Regions from separate parts of the Homo sapiens genome. Here region 2 is linked to region 1. The links come from fine-mapping of genetic effects on gene expression. A gene starts in region 1. The other region holds a variant in brackets. All regions are shown on one strand. Distances are from middle to middle.

The links. PIP is the estimated chance that this variant, and not a neighbour inherited with it, causes the effect.
Region 2: its variant is fine-mapped to the expression of TICAM2-AS1 in sigmoid colon (GTEx, PIP 0.92).

What each region holds. Positions count from the first base shown.
Region 1 is chr5:115,596,056-115,605,909 of GRCh38, reverse strand. TICAM2-AS1 (TICAM2 antisense RNA 1) reads right to left here and starts at 3,755. Exons shown (of 3, transcript NR_109875.1): 1 at 3,450-3,755; 2 at 2,754-2,864. The region is part of intron 3 of TMED7-TICAM2 (TMED7-TICAM2 readthrough); the gene reads left to right. TICAM2 (TIR domain containing adaptor molecule 2) reads left to right here and starts at 3,431. Exons shown (of 2, transcript NM_021649.7): 1 at 3,431-3,813. RefSeq lists a silencer at 3,440-3,939 and enhancers at 3,559-4,081, 4,030-4,109.
Region 2 is chr5:115,472,153-115,482,006 of GRCh38, reverse strand. No RefSeq gene overlaps it. Among named protein-coding and RNA genes, the nearest start is that of FEM1C, 68 kb to the left of the region's middle. RefSeq lists an enhancer at 1,519-1,568. The variant A/G (reference allele first, on the strand shown) is at 4,840.

The DNA of each region.
Region 1 (9,854 bases):
TGGTAATTTGCATCTGCTCTCTTTTTTCTTGACTTATCTGGCTAGAAGTTTATTGATTTTGAACGTCCTAGTAAACCATCTTTTGGTTTTATTTCTGGGGGAATAAAGTACCATAATCAAGCTTAGTAATCCTTCTTCTTACCTTCCTCCAGGATTTTGACTAGATGGGATTCTTTGTCTAATGAAGTGACCTAAACCTTCATTTCTACAGAATTGAGCCGTTGATAGGCCTGTCTTTACTGGGTTGCTGCAGTTTTCCACTGACTAGGACTGTTAGCACTAAGAGGCATTCCAGTGAATTTCCTCGTTTCCATATATAGCCTATATAGCCTTCTTGTTTCCATTGTAAAACAGAAACACAGTTTTCCTCTGATAACTGGAATTAGCTACCCTGGCCAGTCCATTGAGCTGCTTTTCTGTTACTTTAATGGCATGAGGAACCTCAAAAGGCCAGGGCCAGTCTCGGCTCCTAAATCATCAAAACATGATTATTTTTCCTGAAGGAAGTGTTCTACTCTTGGACTCTAGAATTTCTAAACCCACCAAGCCCAACATTTTGGGAATGGGAAGCAAAAATTATTCACGTAGATTCTTAGGTATACTATTGAACAGAAACACTCCTTCTACCCTTTGGCTCTGAGACCTGTGCATCCTGATAGTGGGGAGACAGCTCCATATATTGACTGCTTATTAAATTAATGTACCACATTCTATAGGACACCACCCTACCTTTTCATGATGTTGCCTCCCAGATATCTCTGTAACCGAGCTCTCATTTTGCCACTCAGCTGTTCTATCAAGCTAGTTACTTTAGGAGATAAGCATGTGTTAAAACCATTGAATTCACTTCCATTGCCATAAACTGTGTACCTGGTTGGAAGAAATGTTTTTGGGATTCCTATGCAATGGATAAAACCTTCAGAAATGTCAAGAATATTAGTGCCAGTGGAAACACTGCAGGCAGAGAATGCAGATTTATACCTTGAATGTGAATTATCTTTGTGAAGACAAAGTGCTACCTATTTCTTATGGAAATTGCCCAATGTAACCATCATGTTACCGGGTTGCCAGCAAGTCTCATTGACAGTAATGCCATATTAGGAACCCAGCCTTGGAAATGTAGTCACACTCCACGTTGTTGCCAGGTTGGGCATTCGGCAATGATAGTAGCCAAATAATGTAGGTAAGGAGAAGACCATACTATTGAACCTCTGTCACTGCTTTGATAGCCACTTGGTACATGGGCCCATTAACCAAGCCCTGGGTTGGCTGGAGAAAAAGACTGACATCTACCAGACAATTCATCTTGTTCCGCTTATTATTGAAAATCTTCTCCACCTGATGCATCCTGTTAGGCACTTATGGGGGATATGAATATCTTCACATGCCCTCACCACTCCAAGAGGGTTATCTGTAAGTCTCACGGACAGATCTTTTACAAATTTTCCATTTTGTTCTTTCCAAGAACCTAAAAGCTGGACAATCCATTAGACACTGCCTGTAAGTCAGTATATTTATCAGTTTGTCATGTCGTCCCCTCCTTTCTTGAATGTGAATAACCAGGTATGTAGCTAGAAATTGCCCACTAGGAAGATTCGCTGTCCCCATTAGCAATGCACGGATCTGAAATTGTCTCACTTCTTTACATATCTGTCTGTCTCCCAGATTAGACTATAAAATCTCCATGAGAACTAGGACTGTGTCTCCTGTTCGCACAATATCCCTAATGTCTAGCACATAGAATATATTCTAAACATATGTGGCGTAAGTGATTGATGCATTTTCTTGAACATTTGGAGAGAAAATGTTAAGCAATTAAACTTGTAACCAATTTAAGATTTTTTTTAGTACATGTGACTGTATTATGAAGAACAATGCAAAATTTGGAGCAATTTACAAGAAGATGGAACAGTTCAAGTAAATTTGCCCATGACACTAGTGACTTCAGGCTCTTTTATGTATGCAACCTAAGTGATGAATAGGGAAGTACGTGTTTATGGAATCTGTCATTGGTGGTATTTCAGTGGGAAAATGTGAAAAGCTCTGATTTTGAAGGGTTGCCAGAGAAAGAGGAACAGGCAGAGGAAACTGAAAGAAGAATTTTTTTTTTTTTTTTTTTTTTTTGAGACGGAGTCTCACTCTGTGGCCCAGGCTGGAGTGCAGTGGCGCGATCTCGGCTCACTGCAAGCTCCGCCTCCCGGGTTCAAGCCATTCTCCTGCCTCACCCTCCCAAGTAGCTGGGACTACAGGCAGCTGCCACCACTCCCGGCTAATTTTTTGTATTTTTTAGTAGAGACGGGGTTTCACCGTGTTAGCCAGGATGGTCTCGATCTCCTGACCTCGTGATTCACCCGCCTCGGCCTCCCAACAGGCCTGAAAGAATTTTAACAAGCAGGATGAGCATAAAGGCAAAGTGGGGTTGTCAACATCAAGGAAACAGAGTGTTGGGAAACAATGGTCGACTTTGTCAATCGCCAAAGAGACTCCCAGGAAAAATGAGGGCAACAAAAGTATCAGTTGGATTTAGGAGGCCACTGCTTACCCAAAGAGTTCAGGTAGAATTGTTGGGAGGTGCAGTGGTTGGAGAATCAACTCCGTGAATAATGAATTGTGTTGACACGGTACATAATACGGTATTTCTGACTACATTGGCGGCATTTCACTAAGTAATTACTACCTGAAGTGCCTACCTTCAGTAAGGCATCCTGTTGTTGGATGGGGAAAGAGAAGGAGGAAATAACTCTTAGCTTTACCTGTACTGTGCTTCTGAGACCCAGGTATGGACCTTCACTCCCAATTTACTATCCATGGTCTCATCCGATGTTCAGTAACTGGGTTCTCCTTTGGCAGGGAGTAGGGATTGCCTGAGAATTAAAAGGGGAGGGGAGATTTCTGAACTGGACCTCTTAGGTTATGACTAGATTGGGTGCCTGAGGCAGCAATGGGGCTTTATAAGGCTTCTTTACGCTTCATTTAACTAATTGCTTTTTTGTTCTCTCTTATTCAGTGGAGTTCCAATCTGTTCGGTTGTGGAGAACGAACCTGAGAAAAAGGATCTTTCGCAGGGTAGTTTTTGGGGGCAGAGGCTGATGTGCTGCACCCCCTAATCAGGGGTATGGTTGGCTGCAGTAGTCAAGTGAGAGGGCCGCAAAGGGAAAGGAAAAGTCGAGACTATCTTAGGGAACCAGGAGAGTCGCTGTACCTCTGAAAGATCTACGGTTTGTCTGGTCTGTAAGGAGCAAACACGGTGGAATTCCTTTCCAGATTTTTCTGGGCCTCGACCTCTGGCTTTTGGGGTACATGCCAAAAAAAAAAAAAAAAAAAAAAGCGCAGGGAGAGTCCACTAGCCTCGGTGACAGTTCCCCATTGCGGTTTCCCCTCCTCCACCCTTCTTTGCGAGCTCCTTCCCTCTGCAGAGAGTTATCCCGCCACATTAACCCCTGACTCACAGCTGGACCGCCCCGGCCCGCAGCGCCACGTCCCGGGTGGGGCCTGCCACGGCAAAGCAGCAGTCCGGCCTCGAGCGGCCCCTCGGGGGCGGCGGGGTGGGCGCCAACAGCAGTCAGGCCTGACAAGCGGCGACCTCCAAGGGTGAGGCCTCTGCGGGCCCCCGACTCACGCGCGTCCGGGCTCTGCAAGCGCGGTGGGGAGCAGGCTGCTGTGGTCGCGGGGACTGGGTTGCGGCGCGCCGCGTACGGGACGGCCCCAAACTCTCGACGCCCGGGGCAAGACGCCCACCCCCTGGGCGCTCTCGCTGGGCCAGAAAGGAAGACAGAAAAGCCGCGGGCTGACTGTGGTGGCGCTCGCCTGCAGGCAAGTACCGGGCGCTAGGGCGGGGGCCGCCGCCGGGGGCGCGGGGTGGGCTGGGGCCAGGCCGCCAGGGGCGCGGGGTGGTCTGGGGGCCAGGCCGCCTGCGCTACCTCCCCAGCCTACCCGACCCGACGGCGCGGGTGCTGGCGCTGTTGTCCCCAGCGGGGCGGGCAGGCCTTTCCGTCACTTGGCTTACTCTGAAGGGAAAATCCACACAGCTGTCTGCCTTTTTGTTTCATTTTGACTAGAAAACCCATTTTCGAAAAGACACCTCAGAACCATAAGCAAATAGCCCAGAGTCTTAAATGCTCTAAAGGCTCTGCATGAGCCCCTGCCAGGCACACAGAGCCAGTGCTGGAGGTTTTGGCATGGGTTTTCCTACTTGGCTTTTTGTGCAAAGCTAATTTGGATAAAAATAATTTGACTGGCAGCTGTGAGCTAGTTTTCAGTGTATTAGGACCTCTCCAGCTTTCCACGGTAGTAAACTTCTTAAAGAAAGTATTTTAAAATATTCTCATATTTATTATTATTTTTTAATTTATCCTTTTAATTTTGAAAAGCAAGGGTGGGAAAGGCTATATGATCTGGAGGTAAAAATACACCATTATATAGAGTTGAAGTGTCATCCCCTGAACCCACATTGCACGTCTACACAGGAGAAGAACTTGTCCTTCTCCAAGTGTTTAGTATTCCTTAGATTAGTGTTTTTCAAACAAGCCTGATGGTAAGACGCATTTGGGACTTTTGTTTAAAATGCATCCCCCCACCTCTGAAGGTTTAATTTGGTAAGCTTGATTTCCAGAATCTGTATTTCTATTTTTTTATTGTTTAATTTAATTTTATGTTCTGGGATACATGTGCAGGACTTGCAGGTTTGTTACATAGATAAACGTGTGCCATGGTGGTTTGCTGCACCTATCAGCCCATCAATCCTTACATTTTAATATTTTGAAGTAGTAGGATGGTTATAAATGGAGTTAAGCAACTCCACTTTATATCTCATTCAAATCAGAAAATAGATAAGCAGGTATAGAATATTGACACCTACATTTGAAGCAAAGTAAATGTGACATGTACGCCTTACCGTATGGAACTTGAAGTATAAACCATGTTTACACTGTTGAATCATGGGCATCTGTGTTGAGTCATTTGTTCCTTATGCTATTCTTAAAATGTATTCATTTAACAAATATCTGCTGTTAAATCTTCTGTCTTTAATCCCCCCTAGACCACACATCCCATTCTAGGTCCCGCTCCCCTACTTTGCTTCTTTTTATAACAAACAAAAATCCTCTTTGAAAGATTTAATCTAAGTCTCCATTTTCATTTTCCCTGTTTCTTCCTACCCCCTCTCATCTGAGGCTTTTTGTCCCCATTACCCCCTGCATGGTCCTGATGTTGCCAATGACTGTCTTGTGAAATCCAGTGTCTGTGCACAGTTCTCATCTTTCCTGACCCCTCAGTAACATTTGATCACTCCCTCCTCAATATTCTTTTTTCTTCACTAATGTTCTTCACTAATATTCTTTCTTCTTCACTTGGCTTCCAGGTCACCATATTCTGCATTTCATTCTGCTTCATTGTGTCTCCAGGCTTCCCCACCACTAAATCTTAGTATGCCACAGAGTTCATTTCTTGGCCATATTTTTCTAGCCATACTTTCCCCCAGGACAATTTGTATCCCAAGCCATATTCCTTGGCTATAAATAATATCTATCAGCTGATGACTTCCAAAATTTTATTCCTAGCTTTAGTTCGCTTCTGAGCTCCAGATGTATGTGTATGTCCAGCTGTTTACTCAGCATCTCCACTTGGAAGTCTGATAGGCATTTAAATTTAGTATGGACAGATAGAACTACTGATGCCAGATTCACCAAGTTCTCCCTCTGTTTCCCCTCAGCTCCCTCCCTTATCTCAATAAACAGCCTCAGTTACTGCCATTCAAGTAGGCCGGAATTCTAGGAATTTACTCTTGACTTCTCTTTTTAGGTCAGACTCCGCATCCAAGCATCCAACAAAATCTGTTGACTCTACCCAGATCTGCCCACCTCTCTCTCCCTCTCTAAGCTAAGCCACAGTCCTCTCCTACCTACATGATTGAGAAGTCTCTGCCTCTGCCCTTGCTCCTCTACAGTCTTTTCCAAATAGCAGTGATTTTTGTCATACATACTCAGAACTTTCATTTCCCTTCAAAACCTTCTGGTGGCTTCTTATCAGAATCACAAAAAAAAAGAAAGAAAAAAAAAAGAAAAGAAAAACAGGCTTACAATGGCTTTAAAGCCCTGTGTGATCTAGTCCCTGACTAGTTCTCTGAACTCATCTCCTGACTTCCCTCTCATCCACTCCACTGTAGTAACACTGATTGTGCTGCTGTTGCCTTTGCCTGCAGCTGGTGTCTGCTAGACCATTGCACACTGTACTCCCTCACTTCTCTGTTAGCATGCTGCCTCAGGGGTTACTGTGCTATTGCAGCAAGATCTCTTTTGCTGCTGGGCCTGTGCGGTAGGTTGCTATTAAATACTGAATGCTACTCTCTAGTATTCCATGAAGCTTATGGAACCTTTAAAACATTGTTGGTTGCTTGAGTTCCCTAATATTAAAAATGCACAACCATTTTTCTTTTGAGCCTAATTTTGATAAGATGGACAGTTTGCCTTTAAGTTCTATGTTTTTATAAAATCTCTTCCTGATTTGGAGATTTGCCCTTTACCATCAGTTTTCATTTTTAGATACAGAAAATGGAAGAAAAATATCCAGTTCACTAAAAAGAATATGTAATAATATTTGGTGGGGGGCAGTTACTTTGCCCCCCTCCCCCCACCAATAGGGGCAATAGGAAATAGGAAGCAATAATCTAACATTTGGAGACTCTTTGAATGGTACCAGCAGCAGGTAGTTTATGGGAAGAAGAAAAATAAAGACACTTGTTCAGAGAATAATATACAAGTTTCTAAGTTCTGCAGTGACTAAGCCAATGTCAGAGTTGTGAAGATTTTATAAGATATTATATAAATTGAACTTTTTTTTTTTTTTTTTTGAGACAAGGTCTTGCTATGTTGCCCAGGCTGGTCTTAAACTCACAGGCTCAAGCAATTTTCCCACCTCAACCTCCCAAATAGCTGGGCCTAGAGGCACATACCACTGCATCTGGCTCCAGTTCTCTTTTGAGGACTATGTAGAAATGAAAAACAATATTTTCATCTTTATGAAGAGGTGTAGCAACTAAAAGATTGTTTAATTTATAATCCTTATTTCTCATTTTAATCTCAAGGAACTGGTTCTGTTATCAGTAGCGTATGTACTATCACCCCTTCTTGTAAAAGAAAAGAAGAAAATTCCTTCTTATTTCAGAATTAGGATTTAAGATACTTTAATAAATATTTCCAATATAAGATTAAATTAAATTAAATAATAAGTAGATTTGGAATATCGAACAGAGAGAAGAGTAGGGGGGTTAAGCAGAAACTAGGAGTGAAGTTATTAATAGTATCAAAACACTTGCCATAAGCTTCTGTCTGTTGGCCAGAGCACTCATTAACGTGGAGCTTCCTAGCAACTGAGTGAAGAGATAGGGTCCACAAGATGAAAAAGCAGTGCCCAGGTGAAGATCGGATAGAAGCATTTTTTTAAACATTTACTTGCTCAAGGACCTGTTTTAGGTACGATGAAGATGAATGTTCTGTCCTTTGGTACTTAAGAAGAGTGTTGGAGAAGCCCTGTTTGGTTTAGAGTTAGCAAACCCATGCTCTTGGAATATTTGCATATAAATAAAAAACAGATGAAATAGAGCTAAACCTGGAGATAGGCTAAACTCATTTGGAACGTAGAGATAGAGCATGTAAGGAAGACACTTACCAAAGGTGTTGGAAAAGATATATATAAGGAAGATACTATTTAGATGGAAATCAAATCAACATAATTGACATAATTGTTGACAATTATTGACCTAATTGATATTTATAAAAATATAAAGCCTAGAAAATGAATTTTTATTTACTAAAAAACTATTTTTTCAGACTGTGTGATCATTGTTCAAAAGGTGAACATGTATGTGTATATATGTGTACATGTGAAGAACACGTGAGTTCTTCACATATATATGAAGGAATACATATATATACACATTTATATATTCTTATGCATATACCATTCACAGAGGATCAATGTTACCTTTTTGGTATTCACTTGGCCCATGAACAACATGGGTTTGTATTATGTGGGTCCCCTCATATGTGGATTTTCTCCAACAAAACATGGATCAAAAATGCGGTATTCCAGGATGCAAAACCCACACATACGGAGGGCTGACTTTTTGTATACGCAGGCTCTGCAGGCTGACTGTGGGACTTGAGTATTCTTGGATTTTGGTATATGCAGGGGTCCTGGAACCCCTGGAATCAGTCTTCCCTACCCTTAAGTATACCAAGAGACGACAGTACTTCTTTCTAATCTATTTTCTCTGCATTTTGTTTAACAAAGCTGAGATCATATTCTGTATACTATTTTACAGTCAGTTCCTTTTCTTTAATTACATTTCATTTTCGTGTCATGAGAAGCGTTTTTCTCATGTCATTAAAATTGTTCATAACATTCATAAACATTTTTAATGGTTTAATAGGATTCGATCATATGAATAATGTGACATAGTTAATATTATCATTCCCCAGTTTTTGGATATTTTTATTTTTACCTCCAATGGAATTTTGACTAGCTTATGATTGTACAAGATCTCTTATGATAATAAAATATAGTCATATAACTCATACTTCAAATATGCCAGAAAATATCTCCATAGATTGCATGACAAGAGAAAGCTAAGCCAGTTTGAGAAACTGACAAAAAGGTCTGTCAACCTAAATAACAGAGGGAGATAGAGGCTCTCTAAAAGAAAGTAATATTTATTCAGAAATGGGCGTTGCAGTGGGAATATGTGTGCCATAGTAAATTGTGTGTACTCAGGGAAGTAAAGGCAGACAAAGATTTTCAAAGTAAAAATGAGGAGGTTTACATAATTGTTTTGAGATAATTATTTTTGGCTTGTGGGTAAATAACAAGGGTGGCACCAGTCTGAAATTGGACAGGAAGTTGCTGGGCAGTTGTTCTTGCAGAAGTACTTTTTATATAGGACTGTGATGGCATTTGTGCAAGGTTCTGTTTTTGTTTGTTTGTTTGTTTGTTTTTGAGACGGAGTCTCACTGTCTCCCAGGCTGGAGTGTGCAGTGGCGTGATCTCGGCTCACTGCAAGCTCCACCTCCTAGGTTCACGCCATTCTCCTGCCTCAGCCTCCCGAGTAGCTGGGACTACAGGCACCCGCCACCACGCCAGGCTAATTTTTTGCATTTTTAGTAGAGACGGGGTTTCACCATGTTAGTCAGGATGGTCTTGATCTCCTGACCTCATGATCCACCCACCTTGGCCTCCCAAAGTGCTGGGATTACAGGCGTGAGCCACCGCGCCCAGCCAAGGTTCTGGTTTTTGGGGAGACTTTTATGATAGTTCTGGTTACTAGGCATTTATATTTAAGAACCTTTCCTTCATGGCCTTTCCTGGCTCTGATTGTCCGGTTTTTTAACACTAGTAACTCCACTTTGATTCTGACAACTCTTACAGACCCATAAAGACCCATGTGCAGGGAGCTGGAGGAACAAAGTGGAGAAAAGCATGAGATGAGGTTGAAGCTGAAGGAGCCAGGCTATGCAGGGTATTATTTGTCATATCAAGAAATTTTTATATCAAGCACAGTAGGAAGCCAATGCAGGGTTATAAATGGGAGTAACTCAAATCAGATGTTTTGAAAGATCATCCTGGCTGTTGAGTGGAGAATGGATTAGACTGATTGAGAGTAGGGGACCAATTAGGAGGCAGTGCAGAAGACCAGGATAGAGACATTGATCTAGAATGAAAATGTGGTAGAGAGGAAACTTGAAACAATTTGAGATTATCTGTTAGAGTTAGATACACAGGACTTGGTGATCACTTGGAAGTGCAGGAATAGGAGAGTAAGAGGAAGGTATCAAGGATACCCCAGGTTTTGGGTAATAACA
Region 2 (9,854 bases), 120 kb after region 1:
CTTGCAACCTAATGGTATTAATTAGAAGCAGAATTTCACGTAAGTAATAACCAATTCAGGCATAGCAATTTTAATGTTACCTCTTGTTGTGTATTACCTCATTTAACGTATACAGTAACAGTGATATCAGTATTACTACCATCCATTTTACAGATAAGGACATCAAGACTGAAAGATGCTGGTTAAAAGCCTATGCAACTGACACATGGCAAAGTAGCAATTCTAAATCTCATCCTTCTTCCTTATACCCCCAAGATGGCAGGGGGAAAGAAAGTATTCTATTAAGGACATATGGAAGGGCTTCTTACCCAGACTTCTTTGCCTCATTGTCTCTCATCTCTGAAAATCCCTCATGCATTCCTTTATTATCAACATCACTTTTTGAGAAAAACTTCTTTTTAAGAGGTAAATAGATATAAAGTTCCAATAAAAATAATAATGCCTATCGGTTTTCTCCTTATAGGAGGGTCTAGGGTGGAGATGGGGCTGCATCAATGGAAGGGAAAATGAGTGTACATAATGCCACTGAATTGTACACTTAAAATTGTCAAAATGGTCATTTTAATGTTATGTATATTTTATCACAATTTTTTAATTTACCAAAATAAAACATTAAAAATTAAACATCATCATCTGTGGGGAAAAAATAGGAAAGTAGATTTCAGGAGATGAGCTTCACCTACCCCATATTTAACATGCAAGGACCTTCCTTCCATAAGACACTGGGACTGTAATATGGAAATGATTGATATTCTAAGAGATGCTAATTTTTAGAGTTGTTTGGATTTTCAGGTTCAATATTTCATTTTCATTTCAGAAGTATAATTTTAAACATCATAATGTCATTACATATTCCCTACATAGCAGCATATGTAAAACCCAGAAGCAAGACAGTGGCCTCTGACTCTCTGGCATACAGCAGTATCAGTTCCCAAAATAACAAGACATTCTTATTATGATTTAATCATAACTAGGAAAACCCAATATGTAGAGAGGTCATCTTAGAGTTTACAGGTAGAAAAATTTTTGTTTCTTTTAATGAAAAAATGTGTTTCCTTTTATTAGATGACAGTTTTTAAATTAATAGTTTTCCTTTTTTCACCTTGACTACCAGGAGCACAGAGCTAATTTGGGGGATGATTGCAATGATTTGTCTATAGCTTAGGCTTCATAAGTCAGTGTTTTCCTAGTTTTTCAATCCAAGTCTTGGTTCTTCCACTTTTGTTTTAATGGGTCAGTTGGATTTTTGATTTTTGTCATAAACGTCCTCATTTTTTTAAATAGGTAAGGAATAGAATATAAGTAAATGGAAGGACAGAACAACCACTTGACTGGCAGGCTGAAATAGAAGGGCATAGTAAATTCTTTATCAGTCACCCATCCCAGTTTAGATTCCTGCCTGGCTACGCTTTACTTGAGTTAGCTGCTTTTCTACTATCTGTATGCAAGTTATGTGTTCTCTCATCCGTGACTTGCTTGGGCCTGGCTAGCTGAAAGAAGAAGCTGGTCTTCACCTTCTGAAGCTAATATTGGTATAGAGTGCTTAGAGAGCCTCTGTTGGAGGGGAAGTGCTGTGTAACATACCTGCTCTTCACATACTGTCAGAAGAAAAGTCAGTTGAGCCCGAGTGGGCAGGGTTACCAAGGTACTGCTGGTGGAGGGGCCAAGCCCAGGGCTTCAAGATAGTAGCAGAAGCAGGAGGAAGGCCAGCCCTGCCGAGCTTGCCCTGGAGGTTGAGCCTGAGTTGATGCTGTCTTTGTCAGAGATGGCCTTCTAATGATGGTGGGTGTGCCTGTGTACCCCCGACCCCTGAGTGTAATGTAAAGCTTCTTTCTGCTTGTGTTCTAGCCCCTGAGTGTCTGCCTTATGTTTTAGGTTGGTTGTGGGGAAGAGTTTTCTGTGTGAGATTTTAGAGTGTGATGCTTGAGGGGAGTAGGTGCTGGGATAATTGGCTACCCACATGTAGGAGAACGAAACTGGGTCCTCATCTCTCACCTTATACAAAAATCAGCTCAAGGTGGATTAAGGACTTAAACCTAAGATCTGAAACTAAAATTTCTAGAGGATAACATTGGAAAAACCCTTCTAGACATTGGCTTAGGCAAGGATTTCATGACCAAAAACCCAAAAGCAAATGCAATAAAAACAAAGATAAATAGCTGGGACCTAATTAAACTAAATAGCTTTTGCACAGCAAAAGGAACAGTCAGCAGAGTAAACAGACAACCCACAGAGTGGGAGAAAATCTTCACAATCTAGCCATCTGACAAAGGACTAATATCCAGCATCTACAATGAACTCAAATAAGTAAGAAAAAACAATCCCATCAAAAAGTGGGTTAAAGACATGAATAGACAATTCTCAAAAGAAGATATACAAATGGCCAACAAACTTATGAAAAAATTCTCAACATCACTAATGATCAGGGAAATGCAAATCAAAACCACAATGTGATACCACCTTACTCCTGCAAGAATGGCCATAATCAAAAAATCAAAAACAGTAAATGTTGGCATGGATGCAGTGATCAGGGAACAATCCTGCACTGCTGGTGGGAATGTAAACTAGTACAGCCACTATGAAAAACAGTGTGGAGATTCCTTAAAGAACTAAAAGCAGAACTACCATTTGACCCAGAAATCACAGTGCTGGGTATCTACCCATAGGAAAAGAAGTCATTATTCGAAAAAGATACTTGTACACACATGTTTATTGCAGCACAATTCACAATTGCAAAATCGTGGAACTAACCCAAATGCCCATGAATCAATGAGTGGATAAAGAAACTCTGTTATATATGTATATATGTATACACACACACAGACACACACACACACACACGATGGAATACTACTCAGCCATAAAAATGAATGTATTAACAGCATTTGCAATGACCTGGATGAGATTGGAGACTACTATTTAAAGGGAAGTAACTCAGGAATGGAAAACCAAACATTGTATGTTCTCACTGATAAGTGGGAGCTAAGCTATGAGGATGCAAAGGTGTAAGAATGATACAGTGGACTTTACGGACTTCGGGGGAAGAGTGGGAGGGGAGGTGAGGGATAAAAGACTACAAATATGGTGCAGTGTATACTGCTCAGGTGATGGGTTCACCAGGATCTCACAAATCATCACTAAAGAACTCATGTAACCAAATACCACCTGTACCCCAATAACTTATGGAAAAATAAAAAAAAAAGATGTTTTATTTTTTAAAAATATTCTCTGACAAAACTTAAAGAAGAAAAACGAACCTCTTGGGCTGGGACCTGAGTGAGAACAGGGTGTGTCACCCAGGGTGAAAACAACCTCTGTTCTTTGTAGTCCCTCATCTACCCCTCTCATTTCTGCACCACCCTGGATCCAAAATGATAAGATTTAGAAGCTCACCAGCACATGTTTTGATTTTACGTTTTAAAGTCTCTTCACAACCCTAGATAGTTTATATTGAGATTAAGGAAGGGAAGGGATCATATTCAAATGACTTCGCTTTTTCTCTCTTCTCTCATTTATTAGTCATTCTGGAAAATCAAATGTCAGGTCAAATATGATGAAAGTTCAAAATCTGTTTCTATGATTAATTTTAATATGTCCTTCAGAAAAGGAGATTTCTTCCCTTCCCAAAAGTAGACAGCTTTGCTTCCTAGGCATTTCCTTTACAAATGAGGTTTTCTCTTTATTTTCAGTAACCACACAAAGATGGCAAAAATGTTGTGAGCAGGGTCTAAATTTTAGCAAGTAAGGGGAAGTTTCTGAGGATTTATAAAAATGGAAGCAAAGCAGAGAGCAATGAAACCAACCCTGTAGTTCAAGTTCAGGGCACTGTTTAGCTCAATACTATTCTTTTAGAGATCTATGGCCATGTGTTATAATTCCTTGTTACTCAAAGTATAGTAGGCAAGCCAGCATATTTGACATTACTGGGAACTTTTCAGAGAAGTCTTGAATGTCTTAAATTGACATGAATTTGAAAGAGGTCACATTAACTGTTAGTTAATATTAATATACCCCAAATAGTATTTGCATCATCAGTTTATTGGTTCCAATGAGCTCTCATTACCGGTAATAATTGAACCTTACCAGCTCAGTTTTCCCCGGCAGTGCCAAAGACGGGATCATGTTCATCTTCAGAGAGCCCATAAGCTTTCCTTGGAATCCTCCAAATGTCACCCATGCTACATTAGGAACAGATCCTGCCCCTGCCCCCTTGCCTATTGCTTACTGCCTGCAGGGTGTTCCATGGGACTCCACTAGGTCATGAGCAGAAATAGGGAGGGTGCTGCCTCCTCCAGTTTCTGTCGGCTGTTGTGCCCGGGCCCACATAGTCTTGTGTATACCCTAATTTAACTCCCAACCCCACTCTCCGCAGATCTAAGCTATCTTAAAGGCTACAATTTTGACTGACTTCTCGTGTCCTCACTACTTCACATTTCCATCCCCAGGCACTCTGGCACCAGACCCCTCCCACAGGCTTCTTCCTCCATGAAAATCACCTGCTACAGAATGATCAATGCCGGTGGGTCACCATTAATAGCCATCCTTCATATACTGTACTTGCAACTTTTGAATCCAGTTCAGGCTCAGCTGGAACCCCACCTCTGAGAAGCAACAGTATAATGTAGCTGGTTTAAACATCAGCCACCACCATCAGCACCACATCAACAGCCAGTGCATGCTGTTGTTTCACTACTAATAAAACCAAAACATTCGGAGAAGCAGTTTCTGAGATTACTAGAGATAGTCTTTGAGCTATCTGCTGAGATCACAAGGATATACAATTTAATTTGGGCAACTACATTTTAAGATGGGCATTGATAAACTAGGGAGGAGCCCCGC[A/G]TAGGCAAGAAAGATGTTGAGGTGTCTGAAAATCATTTACATAGAGTGAAAGGAAGTGGAGAGGGTAACTTGAGAATGGAGGTCAGGATAATGTCTTTAAATATTTAAACTGCTATCATGTGGACAGGTAGGGTCTCTTGTTCTGGATTATTCTAGTGTCCAGACTAAGATCAATGGGAGGAAACTACAGAGAGGCATATTCTGAAACCACAAATCGACCAACAAGGAGTAAATGCCCTGGGAGGCAGAGTTCTCTGTCACTCATGTGTCTAAGCTAAGACGAGTACGTTTACTTTAGAGCACTTTAGGAGAAATTATTGAATCGGGGGGGAATGAACACAGAATGCATTGTCTCTTGAAACATAAAAGCTGGAAGTAATCTTAAAGATTATCATCCAAGCTTAGGAGACTATGGCCCAGAATGGGGATTTGATTTATCCCAGTTCACACTAATCACTGTCAGGGGGGGACTAGAGCCTGCATTTTTTTTTTTTTTTTTTTTTTGAGACTAGAGCCTGCATTTTGAGTCCCTGTCTCATGATGCTTTTCTCTACATGCCATTCTTCCCTCTAAGATCCCACACAAATTTTAGCCTCTCTAATGAATGCCATAGATGGGAAAAGAATAGGCACAGAGAGTCCAGGTGACAGTGGCTGGGACAGACCTGGGTGGTGCCAATGATATGGAGACCAATTTTAGAGTCTACTTTGGGATTATAGAACAAGATGACTTTTCTATTCATTTTACTCAGCAAAAATGCATTTTTGGTTCTTTTCTTCCCACATATTGAGTTTTGAAGAATCTGCAATTTGCTTTCCGGTAATTTTTTCTGATATCATTTTCATGTATGAGCAATATCAACGTCAACTCAATCAAAAGTCACTTGTCCTGGTTCTTCTCAACTTCATGCTTCCCTTGGCTGCACCATGCTGAGTGTCCCTGGGCTCTGTCTTCTCTTTTGTCCTTCCTTTCCCTGTCCCTTTCCTATGTTGCTTCCAGTGAGGTATGAAAGGAGGAAGTCACTGGGAACCTGTAAAGGGGAAGGGAAAGACTGTGGGAGAAGGGAACCAAAACAGGAGATGGATGGCCCAAAGAAACTTTGCTGACTTCTTCTAATTTTTGCCTCAACCTTTTCTTATTTCAGTCATCTGTGCTAAGAAAAAGAGAAGCTATGAGCACATGCCCTTTCACATCCTACCTCACATGCCCCAGGAATGATGGCCACAAGGCCCATGTAAGCAGAAGTAGCTCCCTCATGGCCTGACATTCAAAATGGCTACCATCATAGTAATTCCTCTGGGGGAAAAACACCTCTAAAATGGAGTTGTTATTGAGAATTTCACTGATGCCTGAACATCTCTGAGGGAAGTAAGAGAGTACTGCGAGGGGGTGGGGCATGACACTGGGCATCCTTGGGGATAGATGGTTAGAGACCTTCCTGGGAAGGGTTTGGAGTGGACCTCATGTATCTTGGGATCCCTGGGCTAAGGCACTAAGGATGCCTGAGACAAATCAGGTAAGTTCCCTGGAAGGTCAACACATGAATGCATTGATTCTTTGACTCCAAATCCTTTATTAAATCAGGGAATAAGGGAATGGCTCAGCATTTTCTTAGTGGTTATATGAGGCAGTAAGAACTTCAGCTGGACTTTACCCTAATGGATTGTCATTTGAGCTTCCCTTTTTAGGCATGATCTATAAACCTCTAATAAGAACTGTGTTCTTATAGAGTTTCTCAATAAATATTAATTTCCTGTTGTAACTGTGCCACCAGTTCAGTGACTTTGGATAAATAATATCGCCAATCTTCAGATTCCTTTGACTATAATATGGGGGCTTGAACTAAATGGTATTCAAGGTTCCATGTAGGCTTGTTTAAGACAATAAAAAAATAAAAAAAAATTTGGTCTTTGTCTTCAGTTTCTAAAACCCTTGGAATTTCCTGAGTGATAGGAGTGTATCTTGTTATTCATAATGAGCCCCTTTCAACTATACCTGAGTTTATGCTAATGATGTGACCTTTCATGGGCCCCTAGATAGCTTCAGGATGGGGCAGGAGGCCAGGAAGACCAAACAGGTAATTAGAAGTTTGCAGCTTTCAATGCTCCCCACTCTGGGAAGGAAGAGGCCCTAGAGAGTGAATTCAATCACCAATGGCCAGTGATAGAATCAATCATGCCTGTGTTAAAAATAAAGCAAAACTCCATAAAGACCCCTGGCAGCAGGGATTCTGATTCTGTAGGCCTTGGGTGGGGCCATGGAATCTGTATTGAAACAACTCTTCCAGAGATTTGGATGAGCAATCATATCTGGGAGAAACTTTTCTGGAAAACCCACTTTCAATAGTTCAAGTTGATCCAGGTCACCAACTAGTTTTGTTGAACTTGTTTTTGTTAACTAGACTTTGCTTCCCAGCATCCCTTTTCCCTTTCTTCTGATAATAGCATGTTGATTTTCATAGGGGACACCATCTCTTTCTTCTTTTCAGTCTGTGGGGCTCCGGAGGAGGTGACCCCACCTCTGGTTACAGCAGTAGCTCATAACCCGTGGTGGCCAGTTAATAGATTCTGTCCTTTTTGAAAAAGTGATTGTTTCAAGAATAGACACATAAAACAACCTGGTTCAGTAAAACCAATCCTTGGATTTTTGCCAGATATTGCAAAAGAAATTTTCTTTTTCTTTTGAGATTGCTAATCTGGAGAGATGTAAACCATGGCCTGCTGATGGCCATCTTGCCTCCATGAGGGTGGGGCTGCTTGAGAACGGAGCCGAGATACGAGAAAATTTGAGGGGATGGGAGTGCAGAGAGAGAGAAAGTCAGATCCCTGGTAACATCATGTAAAGCCCTAAATCAATCAATGCCATGCCTAAAGCTAGATCATTACCAAAACTTTCTCTTATAGGCACCAACACATTCCCTTTTCTTCTATTTAGCCAGTTTAAGTTGGGTTTCTGTCACTTAAACCAAATATATCTTTCATAGCATTTTCAAATTGCCCTTCCACTCTAGCTCCAGATGGCCTGGGAGGAACATAAACAAAGCTCCTAAATCTCACTGCCTGAAATTATTTGAGGTCAGGAGACTGAGTCTGAGTCCTAGTGCTACCATCATTCACTAATAATGATCAGAAACAAGCAATATCGTCACCTGTAAAGCATGCACAGGGTTATTGTGATAACTAAATGGGATGAAGCATCTACATTTACTATCTCAGCGGTATGAACGTGTTAAAATGTAAATGTGGGGCTCAAGAGAAAAGCAGTGATGACATTTGGTGTCTGCTCTGTGCCAGGCACTCTGCATATTTAATCTTATTTCATCTTTACAATAGTCCTGTGAGGCAGGTTGTGGTGAGGGTTCACATTCACATATAGAGCACCTAGTATATTTCCTGGTTTGGAGAAGTTGCTCAATAAATATTAATTTCCTGTTATAACTGTGCCACCAATTTAGAGACTTTGGATAAATAATATATCCAATCTTCAGATTCCTTTGACTAGAATATGGGGGCTTGAACTAAATGGTATTTAAGGTTCCATGTAGGCTTAATTGTTTAAGACAAAATTTTTGAACATGGCACTTGGAAAAAGCGTTCCATGATCAGAAAGGCTGGGGACAGGCTGGGATCAAAGTTAAGCAAGATCTTGTCCAGGGTCATGTAGCAAATCTGTAGTCAAGCCTGAGGTGATGGTGTTCTGTATCTTGATACGGGTTTGGGTTACACAGGTGCATATGTTTGTCAAAATGAGGCACCTGTAGACTTAGTATTTGTGCATTTCATAACATGTAAATTTTACATCAAATGAAGTGTTTAGATGGAAACATATTGAAGCCTGTAATTTACTTCAAAATGCACCAAAATTAGGAAGAAGTAATGGATGGGTAGAGGGATAGCTGAATGGACAGATGCAACAAAGCACAGATAGTAAAACTATAATGATAGAATTTAGGTGGGGCTATGCCAGTGTTCACTAAAAAGTGCCCTCAACTGTGCCATATGAGATTTTTCATAATAAAATGTTAGAAAAAAATAACCTAGAGCCAAGCCTGGATTTCTGCCCAAGAGCTTCGATCAGCCCATGGCACCTGCTTCCCTCGGGGCCTCCATGAGAGGACCCATTGCCTAAGGGTATGAGTGCTCCTTCTCTGTAGGACTTCTAAGCTGAGACAGGCACACTCTTCTTTTGTGGCAATTCCCCTCCTGGGCAAACAAGGCTCACCCTTTCTCATAAAAAGGGAAGCAAGATTTCCTCTAGCTCATTCCCCTCATTTTAATGAGAGCCAAAGCTAAAGAGGCCACAGGGAACAGTTCTGAAATAATCCCTTTCTTCAGCTGTCATCGCCTCTACTCCCAGCTGCTCCCTTGGCTTCGGCAGCTCCTTTCCTCTAACAGTCATTTTAGCACCCTTGCCCCTCCCTTGGCCTCCCTCTCTCCTCTTGGCCTCGTTTCTGGGCCCAGCAAGCCGTGGAAACATCTGAGATTCCTCTTTTGCCTTCCCTCTTTTAATCTTATCTGAGACAAGTCCAGGGGTTTAAGCAGACTTCTCTAATTATGGTTTTAGTCTGTTTAATAAATTAATCAGGCACATCAAATCTGCTCCTGCTCTTAAACTCTGACTTCAGTCCATTTTTGCATAATAATAGCTCCTGTCATTTGCATTTGCTTTTCTTAATTCCAAGCCCCTTTCGTTCTCTATTCATTGCTCTATATACATTTTCACAAGCTAGATTGGCAAGTATTATTTCTGTTTCACAGATGGAGACTCTGGGAGATGTTACAAATTAAGAGTTATTGAGTTCCTACTGTGTGCACTCACTGTGCTGTCTGCTTCTATGTACACAGTCCCGCTTGAAATCCACAACCTCTTTGTGAGGTGTCTATTGTATGGGCACCACTTTTGCAAATGAGGAAACTGAGGCCCAGAGAGAATATTTTCTGAGGTACAACCACCAGATGGTAATTGCCATGAGAAGTGCAGTCCCACAGAATGTCAGAGCAGGAGGGATGTTGGTA